Regions from separate parts of the Homo sapiens genome. Here region 2 is linked to region 1. Evidence: fine-mapped expression QTL. Tissue or cell type: whole blood. Region 1 holds a variant in brackets; the other region holds the start of a gene. All regions are shown on one strand. Distances are between the middles of the regions.

Region 1 (8,105 bases):
GTGGCACATGCCTGTAGTCCCAGCTACTTGGGAGGCTGAAGCAGGAGAATCACTTGAACCCAGGAGGCGGAGGCTGCAATGAGCCAAGATCATGCCACTGCACTCCAGCCTGGCGACAGAGCAAGACTCCATCTCAAAAAAAAAAAAAAAAATCAAAAAATTAGCTGGGTATGGTGGTGTGTGCCTGTAGTCCCAGCTACTCAGGAGGCTGAGGCAGGAGAATCACTTGAACCTGTGAGGAGGAGGGTGCAGTGAGCTGAGATCATACCACTGCACTCCAGCCTGGGCAACAGAAAATGACCCTGTTTCAAATAAATAAATAAATAAAATTTCAGTAAATGAAAAGAAGTGTCATTGGGCTTCAATTGTATTTGGTTTACTTCTTTCTTAAAAATCTGAAACAAATGTGGCAAACAGAAATTGACAAATCTGCATGCTAGATTTTCGTGGGGTTTTTTTGTTTGTTTTTTGTTTTGAGACGGAGTCTCACTCGTCGCCCAGGCTGGAGTGTAATGGTGTGATCTCAGCTCACTGCAACCTCCGCCTCCTGGGTTCAGGCGGTTCTCCTGCCTCAGCCTCCCGAGTAGCTGGGAGTACAGGCGCCCACCACCACACCCAGCTAATTTTTGTATTTTTAGTAGAGATGGAGTTTCACCATGTTGGCCAGGCTGGTCTTGAACTCCTAACCTCAGGTGATCTGCCTGCCTTGGTCTCCCAAAGTGCTGGGATTACAGCTGTGAGCCACTGCACCCAGCCCTGCATGCTAGATTTAAAATGTATATATTTTCTGTACTTTTTATAATTTTAAAATATTTTAAATTAAATGTCTGTAATCAGTAAAGTTTTCAAAAATAAGTATATTTTATGTTTGTTCCTTCTGGGTCCTGGAAAATAATTTATTATGCCTCAAGCTATAGGTATATTTGCCTAGATATTTCCTTATCTCTGAGCTAAAAACATTAAGATGAGATTGATGGAGCCCATTAAAGCAAAGAAAAAAAACACACACTCATCACTGCTCTAAAATCTGCACAGGTTTTGAAAATAAATCTATTCATTAAGAAAAAGTTCAGAAAGTCTCTGTTTTTAAACCATACCTGGCCTTGCAATTCTGGTCTTACAGGATATGTACTTGGGTAAGGAGCCCTAGATCTCGCAGTAGAATTCCAATAGTTAGAATTGTAGCTAGGATATGGTGGCTGCTCCTAAGAAAAAAAGAAAAATAAATTCACTCTTAATAACATTCATACATCATTTTAAGATAGATTGATAGAGGCAGGTTATAAGGATTAAAAAAAAAAGCAATAGACAAAAAGCAATAAGCTGGGCACAGTGGCACACGCTTCTTGTCCCACTACTGCGGAGGCTGAGGTGGGTGGATCGCTTGAGCTCAGGTGATTGAGTCTAGTATGGTCAAGAGAGACCCCGTCTCTTAAAAACAAAAAATAAAAGAAAAAAGGGAATAGGACCCCAACTATAAAACTGCTAATTATTCAGTACATGGTAAATCAAATGCTCTATGACAAAACAATTATTACCTAGTAAAAAGCTGTTCTTATCTGTTTCGACAATGCCACCACACCAAATGCTATATAAAGGAATTCTACTACATCAAGATGATTAGCAAAATCAGAGACATTAGATCACCTCTATCCTTCTCCAATAACTAATCCTCAAGACTACTAATTTAATTAGTGCAACAAAATGGTTCTTTGCTACTGTTATATTTACCAATAACTTTGGAACACAAAGACATTACTACTAGAGTTTCGCTCAAGCACATACATCTTCAATCTCCAACTTCTTTGCCTTGACACACCCTAGTTTTTCATATTCTACTCTGTGCTATGGCTAAGCTTTCCGCTGGCAGCCTCAGTGTCAGGCATTGATGCAGAACATTTACCAATCCAAAGAGAAAATCTAGCTACGACAATAATTTCATCAGCCTTTCTCTCCAACTCAGAAAGTTAACGCATGATTTGCAATAAGCCAATAAACTTTGATAAAAGACTAAATATACTCAAAACTTCTCAGAGCACCTATTATCTGGTTTATTACATACATTTATTATCCTATGAGTTATTTTGCTTTCAACTGTATAGATTTAGGGTTTTTTTTTTTTTTTTTTTTTTGAGACAGAGTTTCGCTCTTGTTGCCCAGGCTGGAGTGCAATGGCACGATCTCGGCTCACTGCAACCTCCGCTTCCCAAGTTCAAGCAATTTTCCTGCCTCAGCCTCCTGAATAGCTGGGATTACAGGCACCTGCCACCACGCCCAGCTAATTTTTTGTACTTTTAGTAGAGACCGGGTTTCACTATTTTGGCCAGGCTGGTCTTGAACTCCTGACCTCAGGAGATCCACCCGGCTTGGCTTCCCAAAGTGCTGGAATTACAGGCGTGAGCCACACTGTGCCCGCCCAAGTATAGTTTTAAGCTTGAACAGGACCTTCGACATTTTTTCTAAAACTTTGAATATGATTTCACAAAGAAATTCATTGGCAGCTGAAATAACTGAGAGATTATCACTATTAGCTTAACTGCACTACTTATCCATTTCATAATACTTTGTTTTCAGTAATACTTTGAATTTTTTTCAGTAATCATAATTATCAACACTGTTGGTACTGTTTGTTATCTTGGTACTGTTATGCGGGTATTATAGTTGCAAATGAATACTTACATTGGTATTGTTGGGAATCAGTATTTTCACAATGGGAGATAGGAGACACAGATATAAGAATAATGAAACTTAAAACCTTATAATCCTTAATTTGAATTGTAAATATCAGTATGAATTCAAACTGTATTTTATCTTCTTTAAAAAACCACCAACTTGGCCAGGCACAGTGGCTCACGCCTGTAATCCCACCACTTTGGGAGGCCTGACGCGGGTGGATCACCTGAGGTCAGGAGTTCGAGACCAGCCTGGCCAACACGGTGAAACCCCGTCTCTACTAAAAATACAAAAATTAGCTGGGTGTGGTGGTGGGTGCCTGTAATCTCAGCTACTCAGGAAGCTGAGGCACGAGAATAGCTTGAACCCAGGAGACAGAAGTTGCAGTGAGCAGAGATCATGCCACTGCACTCCAGCCTGGGCCACAGAGCAGAGACTCCGTCTCAAAAAAAAAAAAAAAGACAACCCACCAACTTGGGCTGGGCGCAGTGGCTCAATCTGTAATCCCAGCACTTTGGGTAGCTGAGGCAAGAGGATTGCTTGGGGCCAGAGACCAGGAGTTCAAGACCAGCCTGGAAAATAATGAGACTCAGTCTTTACCCAAAAAAAAAAAAAAAAATGTCAGGTGGGCGTGATGATGGGTGCCTATAGTCCCAGCTACTCAGGAGGCTGAGAGGTGAGAGGCAGAGGCAAAGTCCAGAAATTCAAGGTTATGGTGAGCTATGATCTATGATTGTGCTACTGCACTCCAGCCTGGGCAACAGAGTAAGACCCCATCTTTAAAAAGAAAAAACCTACTGACTTGATAACCACACACAGAATATAATTCAAATAATTCTTGAACAGTTTTCTGAATGGACATCTTTAGTGGTACCTTTCTAAAAGCAAAAGAAATTTAAAAATATCTTAAACTCTTCATATAATGTTATTAGTAGTGATATTACTATCTTAATTTTTAAACTATATTGTGTGTATTGTAGAATAGAATAAATACATACAGTAGTGTTATTGGGAACCGATATTGTCACGAGGACAAGGAAAGATAAAATATGGAATGGGGCAAAATGAGGAAGAACTGGGGGATAGTGAATGTGGTGGTGTCATTACAAACTCACATAAGTAAAAAACATAATTTGGCTGGGTGCAGCGGCTCACACCTGTAATCCCAGCACTTTGGGAGGCCAAGGCAGGTGGATCACGAGGTCAGGAGATAGAGACCATCCTAGCTAACACGGTGAAACCCCATCTCTACTAAAAATACAAAAAATTAGCCAGGTGTGGTGGCGGGCGCCTGTAGTCCCAGCTACCTGGGAGGCGGAGCTTGCAGCAAGCCTAGATCACGCCACTGCACTCCAGCCTGGGCAACAGAGGGAGACTCCGTCTCAAAACAACAACAACAACAACAA[A/CAACAACAACAACAAA]ACGTAATTTAACCTTTTATGCAAAACAAACAAATATGGATAAAAGTGACAGTGTGCCAGTCCACACAAAGGATTTAGGAGTCGCTGCAAATTCTAGCAACCCTCTTGTGTTCCCATGCCCTCCACAAGACCTACATTATCTTATATGGGAGCTGTGTTTTCAACTGAAGTCCCAGGATGAGAAGACACACAGGTAGACCTGAACTGAACCTGGGGCCTAGAGAAGAACCACTAGAGTGGACTCACAGAACCTGAGCAAGAAATAAATGTTTATCATTATAAGCTACTAAAATTCTGGAATTGTTGTTTCAGTATAGGAAAAGTCAATTAATGCAATAACTAACAATCAAGTTGGTAACATAACCACAGAGAAAAAAGAATTACTTCAAATGACTTTTAGCTCACGTTATTTTGACTGTACGTCCTCAGTGGAATTTATTCTCTAAGGACAAGCTGAACTGCAAAGAAACCGAAACTGCATCCATTAGTTGTTACTCATAAAACTGGTATTCTTATTTTCAAGTTTTACTCACTACCATCCAATTCACCTATTTAAAGTATATAATTCAGGCCTGGCATGGTGGCTTACGTCTGTAATCCCAACACTTTGGGAGGCCGAGGTGGGTGGGTCACTTGAGGTCAGGAGTTCAAGACCGGCCGGGCCCACATGGTGAAACCTCGTCTCTAATAAAATACAAAAATGAGCTGGGTGTGGTGGCGGGCAGCTACTCAGGAGGCTGAGGCACGAGAATTGCTTGAACCCAGGAAGCAGAGGTGTAGTGAACTGAGATTGCACCACTGCACTCCAGCCTGGGCAACAGGGTGAGACTCCATCTCAAAAAAAAAAAAAAAATTAGCCGGGCATGGTGGCACACACCCGTAGTCCTAGCTACTTGGGAGGTTGAGGCAGGAAAATTGCTTGAACCTGGGAGGCGGAGGTTGCAGTGAGCCAAGATCGTGCCACTGCACTCCAGCCTGGGTGACAGAGCAAGGCTCCATCTCAAAGATAAACAAATAAATAAATAAAAAGTAAATAAAAAGCTGATATTAAAGTAGCCACTCCAGCTTTCTCATAGTTGCCTTTTGCATATTTTTATATATATATACATATATATGTATACATGTATATATGTATACATGTATATGTATACATGTATATATGTATACATGTATATATGTATATATATGTGTACATGTATATATATGTATACATGCATATATATATGTGTATACACGTATATATATGTATTTATATGTGCATATATGTAATTTTTAATTAATAAAAGTAGTACATATTTTTGGGATACATGTGATATTTTGATACATGTATATAAAGTGTAATGATCAAAACAGGGTAACTGGCATATCTGACACCTCAAACATTTATCTTTTCTTTATTGCATTATATTTCTTTTTCCATCCATTTACTTTCAAACTATTTGTATCTTTAAACCTTAAGTGTGCCACCTTTAGACACCATATAATTGGATCTTGTTTTTTTTTTAATCCAGTCTGTCTTCTGACTAGATTGCTTAATCCATGCACATTTAATATTATTGATATAGCTGGATTTACATGTTTTATTTTTACTTTTTGTTTTTTATATGTCTCATGTGTTTTTGTCCTTTATTCCACCTTTACTGCTTTCTTTTGCATTAAGTGAATATTTTCAAATGTAGCATTATAACTTAATGATTATACTTTTTTTTTCTTTAGCAGTTACTCTTGGGCTAACAATACACTTCTTCTTCTTCCTTTTTTTTTTTTTTTTTTTTTTGAGACGGAGTCTCACTCTATCACCCAGGCTGGAGTGCAGTGGCACGATCTCGGCTCACTGCAAGCTCCGCCTCCCGGGTTCATGCCATTCTCCTGCCTCAGCCTCCCAAGTAGCTGGGACTACAGGCGCCCGCCACCACGCCCGGCTAATTTTTTTTTTTTTTTTTTTTTGTATTTTTAGTACAGACAAGGTTTCACCATGTTAGCCAGAATGGTCTCGATCTCCTGACCTTGTGATCTGCCCACCTTGGCCTCCCAAATTGCTGGGATTACAGGCGTGAGCCACAGCACCCAGCTGGGCTAACAATATGCTTCTCATCAGAATCAGCTTCTGATTTATACCAACTTAATTCCAGTGAGATACAGGAATGCTATTCCTATATAAGTCTGTTCCTTTTCCCCTTTTTTGTGATTTTATTGTAATCCACATTATGTCTACAAATGTTACAAACTCAACATTATATTGTTATACTTATTACTTTATATAATGTCTTTTAAAGAATCTGAGAAGAAAAGAGCATATTTGCATCTTTTGTTATATTAACCTTGTTATTAATCATTTCTGATATGCTGGTGTGTTCAATGGTGTCTGACACTTCTCCAACACATCAGTCTTTTTTCTCTCCTTCATATTGCATAATCTGTATTGATCTATCTTCAAATTCATGAATTCTTTCTTCTGTCAGTTCTAGCCTATTGAACTCCTCTAGTTAATTTTTCATTTTAGTTACTGTACTTTTCAACTCCAGAATTTCTATTTGTTTCTTTTTTAATATATAATTGCTATCTCTTTATTGATATTCCCTATTTGACATGACATTATCACACACCTTTCTTTGCTTCTTTAATCATAGTTTTTTAGTTATTTGAACATATATAATGGCTACTTTGAAGTCTTTGTCTATTAAATGTGACATCTGGTCACTTTCACAATCAGTTTCTGTTACCTGCTTTTTTTCCAGTGTATGGGTCATACTTTCCTGTGTCTTTGCATAGCTCATAATTCTTTGTTGGAAACTAGACATTTTAGCAACTCTGAGTACTACTGGTCCCACCTTTTCCACCTTAGGCTTGTTATTGTCATTTGCTCATTTGTTTAGTAACCAGCTGGATTATTTTTGCAAAGTCTGTTTGCCCTCAAACTTCAAGTATGAAGTATGTGATATTGCTCATTAGAAGGCACAGCCTTGGGTATGCCCACAGTCATCCTGGATGACAAAGATTTTTGTAAGACTTTCTTTGAGTGTATCTTTCCTTGACCACATCTAGTTGTTAAAGCTTCACTAATTTCCAGCTGATTGCTCTACTGGTTTTAATAACACCCTGAGGCATAAATTGCTCCACAGACTGAGTAGATCAAATTTGGGTCCCTCTAAAGGGACAGTTAGTTCCCAAGGTCAGTGTTTGAGAGTTGTTCTGATACCAAAGGGCTCCTCCTAGCTTCTTCTTTTCCTGGTTCTCTCCAGCAAACTAGCTGGCCTACTAGTTTATCCTGCATCTCCAGTGAATCTAACCAGTCTCTTCCCTATTGCTTTGCACAACAACCTCCGCAGTTTTTTTGACTTTCTCCACACTCCTGAGCTTCTCCATACTTTGTTCCTTTAGGAAAAGATTAGGAGCTACCTGTTTTACAGCCTACTTCTGCTTCCAGATAAAACATCTGAGCCACTCTCTACAGCTAGAGTGGGGACAATGGTGTGTTTATCTGAATGGCATCCCTGCTTTACGAAGTGGAGTACCCACGGGAAGGGAGGCTGTAGACTTAGGGCTTCTCGGCTTGAAAAGCAAGGGTAAAGGAGATCAGAGCCCCAGTATTTTCAGCAGTGCCTTGCCCAAGGTCAAGTCTCCATCCTAGGAGTAGGGACTGGGTGAAAGAAAGGAACCACCACCACTCAGCCACAATTACCTAGAATTTTGCCTCAGTGACAGGCATCTGAGGCAAAATGAGAAATGTTGGTACGCTACTCCTCCTCCTAGGATGAAAACCTTCTGACTGAGGCTATGAGGTGGAATACATGGAGCTGGAGCCCTGTGTTCTTGGCTACACCCTCTAGAGTAAAGTTTCTATCTCACTAGCTGCAAAAAAGGAGGGATGGAGGAGCTTTTAGTTCAAATACCACAGACCCAATGTTCTTACTGACTTTTGTAGATTTTCTTGAACAAGTGTTTCTTCATGGCCAGGCGCGGTGGCTCACACCTATAATCCCAGAACTCTGGGAGGCCAAGGCAGGTGGATCACGAGGTCAGGAG
Region 2 (8,092 bases), 79 kb before region 1:
GGGGAGGGAGGGGCTGGACCGCCACTGCTGCGAGGGAAGAATCAGAAGAGCTGCCTGTGGCTGGCTGAGAAGGGCAAGGTGGATGGCTCTTCATTCCTGGAAGGCTGAAGCAGCCAGAGGCAGTGATTCACCTCTTTAATGTCTAATCAGGGAGAGATACAGGAGTGAGGTGGGTTTTATTTTCATTTTTGTTTTAACAAGTTCCCACTCTTATCTTAATTCTCAAAAATGATCTGGCCTCATCTATAGAACTGGCTGAGTTGGGGAATCATTTAAAATTTGGGATTTTCTGTACAAGTCAAGAACATATGTGAAAGCTAAAAAAGTAATGGAGGCAGGGGGACTGCTCCCAGCTCCCTTCTGCCATTTACACAAAATATTTGAAAACATGTCTGTAAATAACGTTGTGGAACTGAGATATTGAGTATCTAATCATGTAAAGGACCCTCAGATGGGACAGGCTATTGGACAACTTTCCTGGTTCATGAAGTGGAATTTCCTTTTTGAGTAGTTTCTTGCATGGTGTATTCCAATAGGTCAAACCCAGACCTACTGTTTGCAAACAGGCCATCTGTAGAGAATACAATCTCTGGACTGCCCAGGACTTGTTGCTTGTCTTTCATTTCATTTTAAATACAAAGCTCTTCCTTTAGCATTCACCTTGAAGTCAAGGTGTTGGCTGCCACATGCCATGTCCTCTTAACAAGATAAGAAAACAGTGGCTATGGAGCCCTCACAGCTGGGAAGCTGACATTCTATACTTCCATATGAGAAAAAGGACATTGGAAAGTTGCTTTATTTCTGGGCAGCGTAGACTAAAGTTACTTTTCACAAGGCTGATGCATCCAGCCTCCCCCAGTTGTCCAAGTTGGTGCAGACATGAATTGATGAATGGAAACACTTTCCTTTGGCCTAGGGCCACCTAGAATTGGTCTCTGGTTATTTGTAAAACAAAAAGTAGAACTTGCTTCCATTTTCAGATGGACTAGGGAATACTATAATTAGACAGCTTTGCAATGAATTAACAAATACTGAAAAGTTGGAAATGTGTATATACTGAAATCTCACCAACTTTTACCTGGGGTGGGGTACCAGGAGAAAGGGAACCCCCTTTCTCCTGGTAAAGGGTAAGGGGGGGGATAATGTTTACCACAGGTACGAAATAGTCACTTTAACATTGAGACCTCTGCCTCATTGAATTCAGGTTTTTTAAGTACTTGAAACTCTTCAGATTCTCCTTATTTTAGTTTCTTTTTACATTTATGAAGTAGAAAGCATTGTTTTGTAAACTGTTTTGAAAATAAATAGCCTAGTCTCTTATCCTCTTTAGCGTGGATTAAAGGTGAAGTTCTGCAAATGGGAGAGTGTTCACAGTAGATAGCTCAGATTGATTGAACACATTTGAGGAAGAGACTCCTGCATGAGATACCAGCATTTTTACAAATACTTTTTATGTACATTCTTTATTTTGTCATTTTGTCAACCCTCTCCCCAAGCACATCTTCTTTCCTTTTACTATGTCTATGTAGGGAAAAAAACAAAACAAAAAATTGCACTTACGTTACACTCCCAAAATGTGGGTAATCCGTGTCTTTCAAAAAACATTTCTGTTTTTTGTTTTGTTTTGGTCAGTCCATTGCATAAGTGACAAGTTTGGGTGCTTGTGGCACGTATGTATGAAGCGGGAGGGGGATGAGAATTGCCTGTCCTTCAGTAGGCTGTAAAAGTAATTTACATGTAAGTAAAAAGGGAAAATAGAATAGATGCCAAAGTCATTTATTCAGTCCTTAGTTTTCTTATGTGGCATTACTGCATCTGCTAGTTAGTGAGAAAGCACCCTCAGCTTTTACTGCTCCCCTCCCTGCCTGCCAACACACTTGATGTGTGCAAACAGCCCTCAAGTATCTGTCAGATGACCTATATAAGGTATTGAATAAGGTATTCTTGTCAGTTTAGAAATGGACTGGATAAAACTTACTTGGTTGTCATTATTTTATCTCATTTGTCCTGTTACATGCCCTATGTTAAGATAATTATATTGCCACTAATAATCAAGATGCTAAATGAGTATTACAACTGGCTAATATCATTTTTTATATACAAGGGTATGTGTATATTTGGAATTGATATGAGAAACTCATTTGTACCCATTTGAGTGATATTGCACAACAAACACAGATACCTACAGACTCCGTTTTCATTTTCTCGTGTTCTTTATGATAATGATCTTTGTAGATTGGTTATTTCTGTACTTTATCTGTAATAAACTTTGTAGATCCTGTGAACCATTACTTTGCCTAAATCACTTGAGACTTGAGTCTTTAATAACAAAGCATCAATATTCACTAAAGTCAATCTCTTTTGAGTTTCTGTGACTTGGCTAGAAGCTCTTGACACTAAGGGATTAGTGTTAATTTTCCCTGGGGGTGTTCCACTAGGGCATTACTGTATAATGACTTGATGTTGCCACATAGACTTCAAGATATATAATATTTTGAGGATTTTGTTGATTGGCCTATGTTTTATTGCATAGTGTGAAACGTGTAAAGCTTGGTTAACCTGTATATAGATAGCTTATTGTTGACTAGTTATAGTGTATTTAGGGTTGCCTGTAATATTTAAGCTTCTTTACTGATGTGTGTGCTGGTAGGAACATATAATTTTTGTACATTATATTTACTGAGATGTTGCCTTTTTTATTTTACAAATACTTTGGAATTCCAATGTGTTTTTTGCTTCCGTGAGGATTAATTTGGAAAGGTTTTTAATGACATTCCACTGATTTCAGATTTTGCTTGAGATTGACTTCAATAAATTGTCCTGTATGTTCCAAATTAAATATGTGGGCTTGTTCTTTGCCAATAATTTTTTGCTACAACACTCTGGGCAGGAGGCCATCCTGGGTGGGAGGACTAAATGACACAATCCAGCCAACCTCAGGTAGTGTAGCTTCCTGCAGAATGCGGCTGTGTTGCTAAGGAACGAGGATCTGAGAGCGGGCTGTTTGGTTTTCCATTTAGAGGCGAGGTCCCGGGAGAAGGCTGCTCCCCGCGGTGGTGTGGTTGGGCCGTGGAGACGAGCTGCTGATGATGGACCGTACGCCGACCTACTCGGCTGGAACTGGGGCGCTGGCTCCCTGCTGAACGCACCAGAGGGCAGCTCCGCTGGCTTTGCGTACCCTTTGCCAGACGATGCCCTCGGCACAGCCGCCAGGCCGTCTTCCTGGGGAGCCGCCGGAGCGCGGGCAACTGGGAGAGGGGGCGGTGCCCAGTTCCCGGCCCGGCCCTCCCCGCGGAGGTGGCCACGTCAGCGCAGCGTCGCTCGGAGCTCGCGGCCGGATGGGGAAGGCGGCGGCGGCGGTGGCCTTTGGGGCCGAAGTGGGCGTGCGGCTCGCGCTGTTCGCGGCCTTCCTGTAAGAAAGATCCACGGCCGGGCCCGGGCGGCCCCGCTTCCCAGGCAGGCGGGCGGCACGGGGCGGCGGGTCGGGCAGTGGGGAAGCGGGGAGGAAGCCAGGCGACCTGCTCTGCGCTTCTTTGTTCCCCTCTAGGGTGACGGAGCTGCTCCCCCCGTTCCAGAGACTCATCCAGCCGGAGGAGATGTGGCTCTACCGGAACCCCTACGTGGAGGCGGAGTATTTCCCCACCAAGCCGATGTTTGTGCGTGGAGAAAGATCGTCTTTCCTCCCTCCCCATGACCCGGCTTCCCGCGGGCACCTGTGCGTTTTCCACCCCGAGACGGCCTTTGTAGGGACCCACTGCCCACTCCGCTGCTGTGCGCTGGGTTCCGCCTCCTAGGGCTCGAGTGTTTAAGATCCTGATTGAGAGAGGAGGGTGTCCGAGCCTCTTTGGGCTGAGACAACGTTTTCCCGGGCGCTCTGTGCCTCAGCCTGAGGTACCGGGGCCCGAGCCGCACGGGCGCTGCTGTTCACTGGTGGCGCTGCCTGGCGCCCGGTTACGCGCACTCAGAGACCTTATGTTAGCTCCAGTGAGTCCTGCTGTGTCACATCCCTCTTTCCTGTAGGAGCACGAGTGTGGCTTTTTTTTGGATTGTTTTTAACCTCTGACATTCTGATTCAGGTTATTGCATTTCTCTCTCCACTGTCTCTGATCTTCCTGGCCAAATTTCTCAAGAAGGCAGACACAAGAGACAGCAGACAAGCCTGCCTGGGTGAGCGCTAGCCCTTTCGGGCCGGTTTCTTCGTGCTGGGAACCTAGGAGGTCGTTGTGGGATTCAGCCACGGTGAGCCTGTGTGGAGGCCACTGAGTTCTGCATTCCTAAAGGAACTCTATCCCCGCGGGAGAGGAAAATAGCACTGCAGGGACTTGGTTACGCAGGCTACACGGCAGGCAGCCCTGTGCCTAAATGCACTGGGTTATTTGTACCTCAGAAATGTCTTTGGCCTAGTACAAAAGTTCTCGGCTACAAAAGAGTGATCACTGAGGACCCTAATTATTTTTGTGCCCAGGCCTGGTTGGATTCTATCCATCTCAGAAACAGCACGGCTGCTCTCATAACGAGGCCATGACCATACCTTTCCTCCTAGACAGATCCTTTCAACTAATGGCTTTGCTTTGCAGCTGCCAGCCTTGCCCTGGCTCTGAATGGCGTCTTTACCAACACAATAAAACTGATCGTAGGGAGGTAAGTGACAACAGCTAACCACCCCAGCATCTGCCTCAGCCCTTACCCACCAGAACAGAGAGGTTAATGGTGTCCACCACACGTCTTTCTCATTCTTTTCTCCTTTATCTTCACTCTGATTTTTCTTTTGTCATTCAACGCTTACTCCCTTCCCCATACCTCAGTCCTCCAGGTGACACCTGGGCTCTTTTCTGCCTGAACAGCATTTCCCACCAACGGCCACAGCAGTCGGTCAGTGTCCTCTTGAGCACCTCCTGAAGCTGCAGTGTCATTTGCTGTTTGCCCTAAAAAGTAATCATGTGCTGGAATGGGCGTTTTTCCCCTAATTTAAATGCTCACCTTGAAAGGCTTTTCTCTTAGTGTGGTGACTATACTAAGCCAGTTACCTTATTTTGCCTGGGGCACTATTTGACCAATAGTTAACAGGATTATTAATGTCTGCTACAACTGAAAAATAATTTCTGGAGTTAATGATTTACGTTCCAACCATGCTGCTTTCTTCCAGGCCACGCCCAGATTTCTTCTACCGCTGCTTCCCTGATGGGCTAGCCCATTCTGACTTGATGTGTACAGGGGATAAGGACGTGGTGAATGAGGGCCGAAAGAGCTTCCCCAGTGGACATTCTTCCTGTATGAATATCATATGGACTCTACCCTATGCTTGTTTTCACATCATTGAATTTAACCTAGAAAGCTAGTAGGGATGGGAAAATCTGACTACTCTTGTTTCTACAATTTGGAAAATCCCCCCTTCTTTAGTAACTCCACAGTTTAACAAGTCTGAGCCTTGACTATTTGGGTAAATATTACAGAACAGAAAGGTAGTTTACCTTCATGAGATTTGCACATTTAATTGTTATATTATTTGCCTAGATCCTGCAATCTTGTACTAGCAATAAAAATACCTTTAACGAAGAGTTTCTATGTGTCAGGTACTTTGAAGCATTTTCATTTCTTACCTAATTATAGCTCACAATAATCCAATGAGGTGGGGACTATTGTATTTATGAGTCCCATTTATAGATGAGGAAACTAAAGCATCAACAAGTTGATACATATAGCTAGTATACCGAAAACTATACTCAGATAAAACATTAACTTTGGGGCACTAAGTCCTTCATTTTTCTTTTTGTTTCCCTTTCCTTCACAATGACTTACACTATAAGTATACACAAAAAAGGATTAAAACACCCTCATGGCCGGGTGTGGTGGCTCATACCTGTAATCCCAGCAATTGGGAGGCCAAGGCATGCAGGTCACTTGAGGCCAGGAGTTCAAGACCAGGCTAGCCAACATGGTGAAATCCCAACTCTACTAAAAATAAAAAAATTAGCTGGGCATGGTGGCACACACATGGAGTCCCAGCTACTCGGGAGGCTAAGGCAGGAGAATCGCTTGAACCCGGGTGGTGGAGGTTGCAGTGAGCCGAGATGGTGCCACTGCACTCCAGCCTGGGCGACAGAGCAAGACTGTCTCAAAAAATAAATAAATAAAAACATACTCATGCTTCCTAGCCTCCTATGTGGGGATGAATGAGGTAGCTTCCTTTAAAAGACAAACCACTTAAAAGTTTTTCTTGTTCCAGTTGCATTTGCTGGTCTGGCCTTTGCGTCCTTCTACCTGGCAGGGAAGTTACACTGCTTCACACCACAAGGCCGTGGGAAATCTTGGAGGTTCTGTGCCTTTCTGTCACCTCTACTTTTTGCAGCTGTGATTGCACTGTCCCGCACATGTGACTACAAGCATCACTGGCAAGGTAAGCAAAGTACTCAGGCTATGGAAGCTTGCATATTTCACTCATTTTATTCCTAGCACCTAGCACAGAGGAGATGCTTACTAAATATCTGCTGAATGAACAAATTAATGAGTATGGATGGTCTGGGTTCTGTACTAAGTACATTTAAAATTATAGGAAAGATAAGACAAAAAGAGTTTACCAAAGATAAACATCCTAATTTTTCCATTATTTGAAGCATTGTAAGTTCAAGTTAAACTGCATCTACAGGAAATTTAAAACCTCAAAGTTCAATTTACTCTCTTAAAAATCAGGTTCATTGTCATAGGACTTTTGTTCAAAAACATAAGTAAAATTCAAGAAAACATAAAATTATAATTAAACCAAACAAATTTAAGCTGAATGCTATAGTAAGTAAAATATCCAAATTACAGAACACCTGGCTTGGCGCGGTGGCTCACACCTCAGCACTTTGGGAGGCTGAGGCAGGCGGATCACCTGTAGTCAGGAATTCGAGACCAGCCTGGCCAACATATTGAAACCCCGTCTCTACTAAAAATACAAAAATTGAGGCCAGGTGCAGTGGCTCATGCCTGTAATCACAGCACTTTGGGAAGGTGAGGTAGGTGGATCACCTGAGGTCAGGAGTTGAAGACCAGCCTGACCAACAGTGAAACGCTATCTCTACTAAAAATACAAAATCAGCTGGGCATGGTGGCACACGCCTTTAATCCCAGCTACTTGGGAGGCTGAGGCAGGAGAATGGCTTGAACCTGACACAATTCCAAAAAAAACGCTGGAGGTATTGCCCACAGGTCCTCAGGAACCCTATTTTAAATTTTTAAATAAACTAGTTTTTTGCAAAGAGAAGCAACTCTTTTTTTTTTTTTTTTTTTTGAGACAGAGTCTAGCTCTGCGCCCAGGCTGGAGTGCAGTGGCACCATCTCGGCTCACTGCAACCTCCACCTCCTGGGTTCAAGCAAGTCTCCTGCCTCAGCCTCCTGAGTATCTGGGATTACAGGCACATGCCACCACGCCCGGCTAATTTTTGTATTTTTAGTAGAGACAGGGTTTCACTTGTTGGTCAGGCTGGTCTCAATCTCCTGACCTCGGGATCCATCTGCCTGGTCCTCCCAAAGTGCTGGGATTACAGGCGTGAGTCACCGTGCCCGGCGAGAAGCAACTCTTAAAATACTTTATTCCTTCCTCTAGGACCCTTTAAATGGTGAAAATGGGCAGATGAATAGCAATAAGTGGACCTTTGTTACTCTTCTGAGTTAGAAAAATTCTAATTTAGTACACTCTGAACAAAGCTTATTATACTTACTTAAGATGTGTTTTGATTTGGTGTTCAGAAAGCAACCTGACAATGATAATACTGTAACTATGATAAAATTGAGAATAAAAAGATTTTATTTAGAAATCATAAGTCTGGAATTGAGGTTATTTTAGCCCCACAGTAGAGTATCCTGGAGGGCCAGGTCCTCTATGCTATGTGTATGTAATAGGATTTAGGAGCCTAATATTAAGAGAAGACCTTGTTTCCACTCTCTTCAGATGTACTAGTTGGATCCATGATTGGAATGACATTTGCCTATGTCTGCTATCGGCAGTATTATCCTCCTCTGACTGATGCAGAATGCCATAAACCATTTCAAGACAAACTTGTACTTTCCACTGCACAGAAGCCTGGGGATTCTTATTGTTTTGATATTT

The links. PIP is the estimated chance that this variant, and not a neighbour inherited with it, causes the effect.
Region 2: PLPP5 starts here. The variant in region 1 is fine-mapped to the expression of PLPP5 in whole blood (INTERVAL, PIP above 0.99).

Annotation. Positions count from the first base shown.
Region 1 is chr8:38,185,788-38,193,892 of GRCh38, reverse strand. BAG4 (BAG cochaperone 4) reads right to left here. Exons shown (of 5, transcript NM_004874.4): 2 at 1,098-1,205. Among named protein-coding and RNA genes, the nearest start is that of BAG4, 13 kb to the right of the region's middle. The variant A/CAACAACAACAACAAA (reference allele first, on the strand shown) is at 4,080.
Region 2 is chr8:38,264,446-38,272,537 of GRCh38, reverse strand. PLPP5 (phospholipid phosphatase 5) reads left to right here and starts at 3,314. Exons shown (of 7, transcript NM_001102559.2): 1 at 3,314-3,412; 2 at 3,548-3,656; 3 at 4,077-4,167; 4 at 4,578-4,641; 5 at 5,147-5,271; 6 at 6,227-6,397; 7 at 7,934-8,092. The coding sequence starts at 3,339. NSD3 (nuclear receptor binding SET domain protein 3) reads left to right here. Exons shown (of 24, transcript NM_023034.2): 24 at 1-2,834. It also overlaps a transcript of DDHD2 not described here. RefSeq lists a silencer at 3,116-3,595.